2 linked regions of the Homo sapiens genome follow. The protein of the gene in region 2 interacts with the protein of the main gene of each other region in a biochemical or structural test. Each region holds a gene or a part of one and is shown on either strand. Other genes may lie near its edges. The genes, in order: APPL1 and RAB22A.

Region 1 (3,913 bases), on a different chromosome or scaffold from region 2:
TCTTCCAAGTCCTAGTGGAAAAGACAAAAAAGAAACTAAGTTACTTGTCTGCAGTCAAATGGCAAATTATGCAGTTAAGATACATTCTTGAGAGCCACTTCTTCTGTCATAAATATGTATGCATACTTCTGACAACTTGATAAAAAGAAAAGCTACACCCAAACAATACAACACCAAAATGAATTTTGGCACCATCCTATAAAAGCCAGCATTCAAACTAAAATCTAATATTTTATCTTTCTTTTTTTATGACCAACAACCAAATAAAGCCCATCATCAATCATCTCTCACTATATATTATAGTAAAACCCTCGAAAGGGATCACCCCCACACTCCTTTCCCTTCCCCTCTCCAGCCCTTTTCTCCATCCCTGTCCAATTCATCTTTGCTAAATCAGGTGTCACCTTCCCTCAGCCTCGCCTATCAAGAAAGCCTCACTTCAATGTCATCTTTGCCACTTCCCTCTTCTTTGTCCAGAGAGCCAGCCCACAGCCAATGCTTATTGATCTGTTCTAAGCATCCCAGCTGTCTCCTCTTTTCTATTCCTACTGTCAATCTACAACCCATAACACGCTCTTACAATTTCATGGATCATTTAATGCATTCTTCAAGTTTTGCTCTGAAATTTGTCTTTTAAAATTATTCTGTTGGATGGACAATGATTTGACACTCCTGGCAATATTAAAAATATACATTTCATTATATATTTCATATAACATATATATTTATTTATTTCCCCCCCATAGAAGGCAAAATGGCTTTCAGCAATGGCAGTTAAGTCTACACAGCCTCTCAACTGCTTTGACAGAGACAACCTCCTCTGAAATATTAAAGTTCTGGTATATTTTTGAAACAGTCATATTACATGTCAACGTAACTATAATGTAAACATCATATCAAAAAACAGATGTGACCCTTTTCTGCTATGGTATGAATCATCTGTTTATGAAGTGGCTGAACAAGCAGAAACAGCCCTTCATTTGGAAATTCAAATCTGAAAGTCATAGTGCTGAATTAAGTCTTCACAAACAACACATAAAGATCCAGACATTAGGACTGTATACCTTTTCAATCTGTTTTTGTTTATTGAGTTCTTTCTGTTGCTTCTCTTTTACTCTCTCTATTTCTTTTTGTTTTTCTGATGCCCTACGATCCTAAAGAACAGATGAATAAAACTAATGAATTAAATATGAAATAACTTTAAATTTTAGACATTTCAGTTAATATCACATGGTAACCTTTCAATATTTTTTTGCATTTATACATAAGAAAGCACATCAACAGTTTATATTCAATGGTAAACAATTATCCAAATTCTAAATGCTATGTTGGTAATAGTATCACTGTTAACCTTGCTTAGCAAAATCATTTTATTTACTTGCTAATATGAAAGAGCTAATATACTATTTTAGTTAACATTCTTGGAAAATCAAGCATCTTGGATTCCTTTTTTTTTTTTGAGATACAGTCTCGCTCTGTTGCCCAGGCTGGAGTGCAGTGGTGTGATCTCGGCTCATTGCAACCTCCGCCTCCCGGATTCAAGTCATTCTCGTGCCTCAGACCTCCTCAGTAGCTGGGATTACAGGTGCACGACACCACACCCAACTAATTTTTGTATTTTTAGTAGAAATGGGGTTTCACCATGTTGGCCAGGTTAGTCTCGAACTCCTGACCTCAAGTCATCTGCCCGCCTCGGCCTCCCAATGTGCTGCGATTACAGGTGTGAACCACTGTGCCCAGCCACATCTTGGATTCTTACCAGTTCAGCATGCAAAGCTATCTGTTTTGCCAGTCCAACAGAATCACATATCTAAAAAGAGAAAAAGTATGAAAAATTCAGGCAGTTCTCACAACAAAGCAAAAATGTCAAGTATCCAAATAACTGATGGAACTAGTTTTATAACTAATCCTAATACATTGCTTCAAGCAAAAGCATATTTAAGAATGCTCAAGCCCCCAAACCAAGGCTTTGTATGTTTTCCTTGAAGTCTACAGGATTCCACTGCTGACTCTCACCTTCATATATACCCCACTTCTTGTTATGTCAAATTCATTACTGTCACAGTAAGGCCTACGAGGAAGAAGCATGCAGCTGCTAATGCTATTCTCAGCTGAAGACATCTGAAAATGGCTGGTTTTGGTTCCCAACATAATGTTTGGTTCCCAACATAAATGAGAGGCTAAAAGATTGCACCAGCTATCAGTGGCAGGGAAAACATGGGTCTGTAGAGTCAGAAGGCCCAAACCATCAGCTTGGCTCTATTCAGAGATGCTTTGCTCAAGCAGCTCAGTAAGCCTAGGCAAAATTTGGGAGTTTTTTCCAAAAATCTTAGAATTATATAAGAATTTTATTTACACAAAAAACTACAAAACACTGATGAAAGAGACTGAAGACACAAAAGAACATCCCATGCTCATGGATCAGAATAATATAGTTAAAATAACCATATTGCCCAAAGCAATCTATAGGTTCAATGCAAATAGCCAAAGCAATCTTAAACAAAAAGAACAAAGCTGGAGGCATCACATTACCTAACTTCAAAATATATTACAAGGCTATAGTAAGCAAAACAGCAGGGGATTGTTATAAAAATAAGACACATGGCCAATGGAACAGAATAGAGAACCCAGGAACGAAGCCACTTGTTTACAGCCAACTGATCTTTAACAAAAGTGACAAAGAACTTTCACTGGGGAAGGGATATCCTCTTCAATAAATGGTTCTGGCAAGATTGGAGAGCCACATGTAGAAGAATGAAACCAGACCCCTCCCTCTCACCATACACAAAAATCAACTCAAAATACATTAAAGACTTAAACATAAGACCCAAAACTATAAAAATACTACAAGAAATTATAAGGATCAGAGCAGAAATAAATGAATCTGACATGAAGAAAACAATACAAAAGATCAACATAACAAAAAGTTGGTTTCTTTGAAAAGATAAAACTGACATTTAGCCAGACTAAGAAAAAGAAGACTCAAATAAAATTGGAGATTAAAAAGGTGACATTACAATTGATACTGCATAAATTCAAAGGATCATTCGTGGCTACTATGAGCAACTACATGCTAGTAAATTGGAAAATCAAGAAGAAATGGATAAATTCCTAGACAAATACAACCTACCAAGATTGAACCACGAAGAAATCCAAAACCTGAACAGTCCAATAACAAGTAACAAGATCCAAACCATAATAAAAAGTCTCCTGGTAAAGAAAAGCCCAGTACCTGATGGCTTTCCTGCTGAATTCTACCAAACATTTAAAGAAGAACTAATACCAATCTTACCCAAAATGTTCCAAAAAATAGAGGAGAAGGGAATACTTCCAAACTCATTCTACGAGGCCAGTATTACCTGATACCAAAACCAGACAAAGACATATCAAAAAAAGAAAACTACAGGCCAATATATCTCATGAATATTGATGCAAAAATCCTCAACAAAATACTAGCAAACCAAATTCAACAACACATTAAAAAGATCATTTATCATGACCAAGTGGGATTTATCCCAGGAATGCAAAGATAGTTCAACATATGCAAATCAATCAATATGCTACATCACATCAACAGAATAAAGGACAAAAACTATTTAATCATTTCAATTACTGCTGAAAATGCATTTGATAAAGTTCAACATCCCTTCATGATTAAAAACCCTCAAAAAAACTTGGTATAGAAGGAATATAGCTCAACATAATAAAAGCCATATATGACAGACTCACAGCTAGTATCATACTGAATGCAGAAAAACAAAAAGCCTTTCCACCTTTTAGATGGAAGATGAGTAATCAGGTAAGAGAGGAAAAAAGGCATCCAAATTGTAAAGGAAGAAGTCAAACTATCCTTGTTTGCAGATGATATGATGATCTTATATTTAGAAAAACCTAGACTCCACCAAAAAACTAT
Region 2 (3,913 bases):
AAGGATTTTCAATGCACCTTTAGATGTGTATCAAATAAAAGTCTCTTACCCTATTGTTGGGTTGATGTTTGGATCAAAACTGTCTTCCACAAACCGCCACACAATACTCGATTTACCTACACCTGTATCCTGAAAGAGAACGAGATGAGGGACTGAGAAAAAGTTTACCTTTTGGCAGACACCAAAAACTACTTTGTGGCATAAGTTCAGGATTTTAGAAAAATCACCCTAGACGTGTAAATTTTATAAACGGAGGAACACAAAAGCGGTTGTCATAAAAATTCAGTAGAGTAATTAGGAAATTCCAACTGTACTAAAAGGGAGAGGTTTTTGCCGTTAAGACAGATTAGGACCTTTTGAGAGACCCAAAGTTTCTGCTTCGTGTAAAAAGTAACAAGTCCACTTGCTTTTTAACATATGTTAGTAAACTTTGAACTCCTGAGTTACCTCTGAGTAATCCCTGATGAATCCTAGCCCCACCCTATTTGGGGGAATAAAGATTAGTTATTGGAGTTCCTGCCGATCTTTAAGGCAGAAACTCTGGAATGACAGCATCAATTTCAGAAAGAAGGCTTTGAAATGGCCAACACCTTGTCTTTCCTGACAAGACAGGAAGCTGAAGCTTCAAACTAGTCTTTGGGGCTTCCTGATTTGAACACCCCTTTTCTCCACAGGAAGAGTTACTTGGCAAAGTAACTCTTTGGACAAGTGGCAGGGGTATCCCACAAGTTCAAAAACACCCAAGAGACAAAGTAGGCTAATGCTGCTTGTAAAACCTAAAGACCTGTTATTGGTTTTACTTTGGAAGACTTGGCCAACTCCCAACTAATACCTTGGTAAGTTGGGAGAAAACTATTTAAGAACCTCTCTTAACCCAGATGCAATAGAGAGGCAAGGGGGGGCTGTTTGCTCTTTGTGGGGCGGGAAGAGTCCACGGGCTCCAGGGAGGGGAAGGGGAAGGGTCCCTTCGGCCTCCAGGACCTTTTCGAGAGTGCAAGAGGTGGGCGGGACGGCTCCCGAGCTGGAGGGAGGGTCCACGGGGCTGGCAGACAGCGTCTTGGACGTGGGAGGGGGGAAGGGATGAGGGGACAGGGGGGATCCGGGGTCCCCGCCAGCCCAGCCTCCCGTGGCCCTCCCGGCCGGACCCGCCGCCACTCACCCCGAGCAGACACACTTTGAGCTCCCTCAGCGCCATGGCCCGGGAGCCAGGGGCGCGGGCCCGCCGCCGCCCTAAGTTGAGAAGGGAGAGGCCAGGCCCAGCAAGAGCATCCCCTGGCGCCGCTGCCGCCGCACGGCCCAGCCCCGGTCCGCGCAGAGGCGGCTGCCGCCCGTCCTCCGGCCGTAGGTCCGGCCTGTCCGCTGCCAGCCGCGTGGGGCCCGCCTTAGCAGCCGGGACGCCGCCGCGGCCTTCCGGGAGCCGCCGCCGCCGCCATCTTGGGACGCCGGCCGCGTCACCTGACCTCCCCGCCCACCTCGGCAGCCACCTTCGCTGAGAGGGCGGGGCCGGCCGGCCGGCGCGGATCGGGGGCGGGGCCCGAAGCCGACGGCCCCGCCCCTGTCTGCAGGGCCCCGCCCCTGTCTGCAGGGCCCCGCCCCTGTCTGCAGGGCCCCGCCCCTGTCTGCAGGGCCCCGCCCCTGTCTGCAGGGCCCCGCCCCTGTCTGCAGGGCCCCGCCCCTGTCTGCAGGGCCCCGCCCCTGTCTGCAGGGCCCCGCCCCTGCCGGTCCCGCCTCCATGCCCATCCCAAGATGGCGGGTGAGTGGGGCTGGGCTCGGGGGATGCCAGGGGTGCCCCTCTCTCTCTCGCCCCGTGACCACCCCGCGAGGCCGAGGGGCCCCTGCCCGACCCCGTCCCCTCTCGCCGCAGCCCCCTGGTAACTTCTTGTGTGTTTCTTGGTTTTCAGAGATCCCCCTGTACTTTGTGGACTTGCAGGATGACTTAGACGACTGTAAGTAAGAGTTGGGGCACCCCTGTCCCTCCCTGGGACCCTCTCAAAGAATTCAGAGTGCACGAAGCGCGGGGCGGGGGAACCTCAAGCCAGGCACTCCTTGTCGGGACCAGAACAGCGGGACCCCCAACTGCCTAGATCCACTGGTGGCGGTCCCTCCTCCCTGGGCGGGGCGGGCTGAGGGTGGGAGCCCTTCCCTTCCCTCGGGGGAAGGATTTTTGTTGTTGGGGAAACTTTGGACTCCCTGTCACTTCTTTTCTTCCTGCGCCTGCAGCTGCCGTGGGATGGGCGGAGGGGGTAGTCCCAAGTCCTAGTCGACCCTGGGCGGGCGGGGGGTCCGCCACCTGGGAGGTGGGTGACTTCCCTCTCAGGGCCTTGCCCTTTTCCTAGGGACTTTTTAGGACTGCTGGGGGGTTTGGGAGGTCCCCCTCTCGGTGTGGCCGGTCACGGAGTTGCACGGACTTCTCAAGTGTCCTGGCCACAAGCCCGGCTCCATCTCTTATCCCATGGAGCCCATTGGCCCCCGCATTTCTTGGGTGGGACCCTTGTCCCTTCTTGCCCTCTTTTTTGGAATCATGTTAAGGGCTGGTAGCTGGGGGAGGTGTCATCTTAGAAATCCAAGTTCGCATTTCTGGTGAAGGAAGGAAGCGTTTTCTCTCCTGTCAAGAAACTTACTGAGCAGCTATTTGCTCTGGGGGCCACGTGTTGGGCTCCGAACCTGCAAGGATGTGTTGAAAACAGCTCTACACGCAGGGAGCTCACAGGGTGTGGGGAGAGCCTACTTGTAAACAGAAAATTACCGAGCACCGGAGTGCTTGCTGGTGAAGAAGCCCTATATAAATCATCCAAATAGCTAACATTAATTGGGGGCGTACTGTACGCCAGTCATATACAGTACTTCCTCTCATCTTTCATTCCACATCTTCAGGTTTCCTAATAGTAAGAGTTGGTGTTTACTGAAAACTTACCATGGACCAGACAGCGTTAAACTCTTTTTTTTTTTTTTTTTTTTTTGAGACGTAGTCTTGCTCTGTAGCCCAGGCTGGAGTACAGTGGCACGATCTCGGCTCACTGCAAGCTCCACCTCCTGGGTTCACGCCATTTTCCTGCCTCAGCCTCCCAAGTAGCTGGGACTATAGGCGCCCGCCACCACTCCCGGCTAATTTTTTGTATTTTTAGTAGAGAAGGGGTTTCACTCTGTTAGCCAGGATGGTCTCGATCTCCTGACCTCGTGATCCGCCCACCTCGGCCTCCCAAAGTGTTGGGATTACTGGCGTGAGCCACCACGCCCGGCCCAGTCTTAAACTCTTTACACACATTAACTCAGAAGGCGCAGTTTCGGCTGGGTGCGGTGGCTCAGGCCTGTAATCCCCGCACTTTGGGAGGCAGAGACGGGCAGATCACTTGAGTCCAGCCTGGCCAACATGGTGAAACCCTGTCTCTACTAAAAATACAAAAATTAGCCGGGCTTGGTGGCGCGCGTCTCTAATCTTAGCTGCCCGGGAGGCTGAGGCAGGAGAATTGCTTGAACCTGGGAGGCAGAGGTTGCAGTGAACGCCACTGCACTCCAGCCTGGGCGACAGAGTGACTCCGTCTCAAAAAAACAAAACAAAACAAAACAAACCAACAAGGGGCAGTTTTGTTAAAGTAGCATAACACTTTTGAAGGGGTAAAGCAAGCTGATAGTTAAGAGCCCGGTGTCTGTGGAATCAGATGGCCAAGAGTGAAATCCCGTATCACTGTTTACTGTCAGTGTGATCCCAGGCAAGTCGCTGTACCACTCTATGCCTCAGCGACCTCATCAGTAAAATGGGCATTATAGTGGCCCACCTCAAAAGGCTTTTATAAGGGATTAAATGAATAAAGGATTTAGCACAATGCCTAGTATGTAATAAACAGTTGGTAAATAATGGCTGCTGTTACCGTTATTCATGTGATCATTATTAGTAGTTATTTAACACTGTTGA

The links.
Region 1: the proteins of RAB22A (region 2) and APPL1 form a complex in vitro, tested with the Homo sapiens proteins (one study listed by IntAct).

What each region holds. Positions count from the first base shown.
Region 1 is NC_000003.12:57,265,639-57,269,551, reverse strand, and holds part of APPL1 (DCC-interacting protein 13-alpha), read right to left. Parts: intron 1,811-3,913; coding exon 1,760-1,810; intron 1,211-1,759; exon of another isoform or gene 1,155-1,210; coding exon 1,065-1,154; exon of another isoform or gene 12-1,064; coding exon 1-11. UniProt on the Homo sapiens protein: Multifunctional adapter protein that binds to various membrane receptors, nuclear factors and signaling proteins to regulate many processes, such as cell proliferation, immune response, endosomal trafficking and cell metabolism.
Region 2 is NC_000020.11:58,307,259-58,311,171, reverse strand, and holds the start of RAB22A (ras-related protein Rab-22A), read right to left. Parts: upstream 1,458-3,913; 5' UTR 1,196-1,457; coding exon 1,160-1,195; intron 130-1,159; coding exon 50-129; intron 1-49. UniProt on the Homo sapiens protein: Plays a role in endocytosis and intracellular protein transport. Mediates trafficking of TF from early endosomes to recycling endosomes. Required for NGF-mediated endocytosis of NTRK1, and subsequent neurite outgrowth.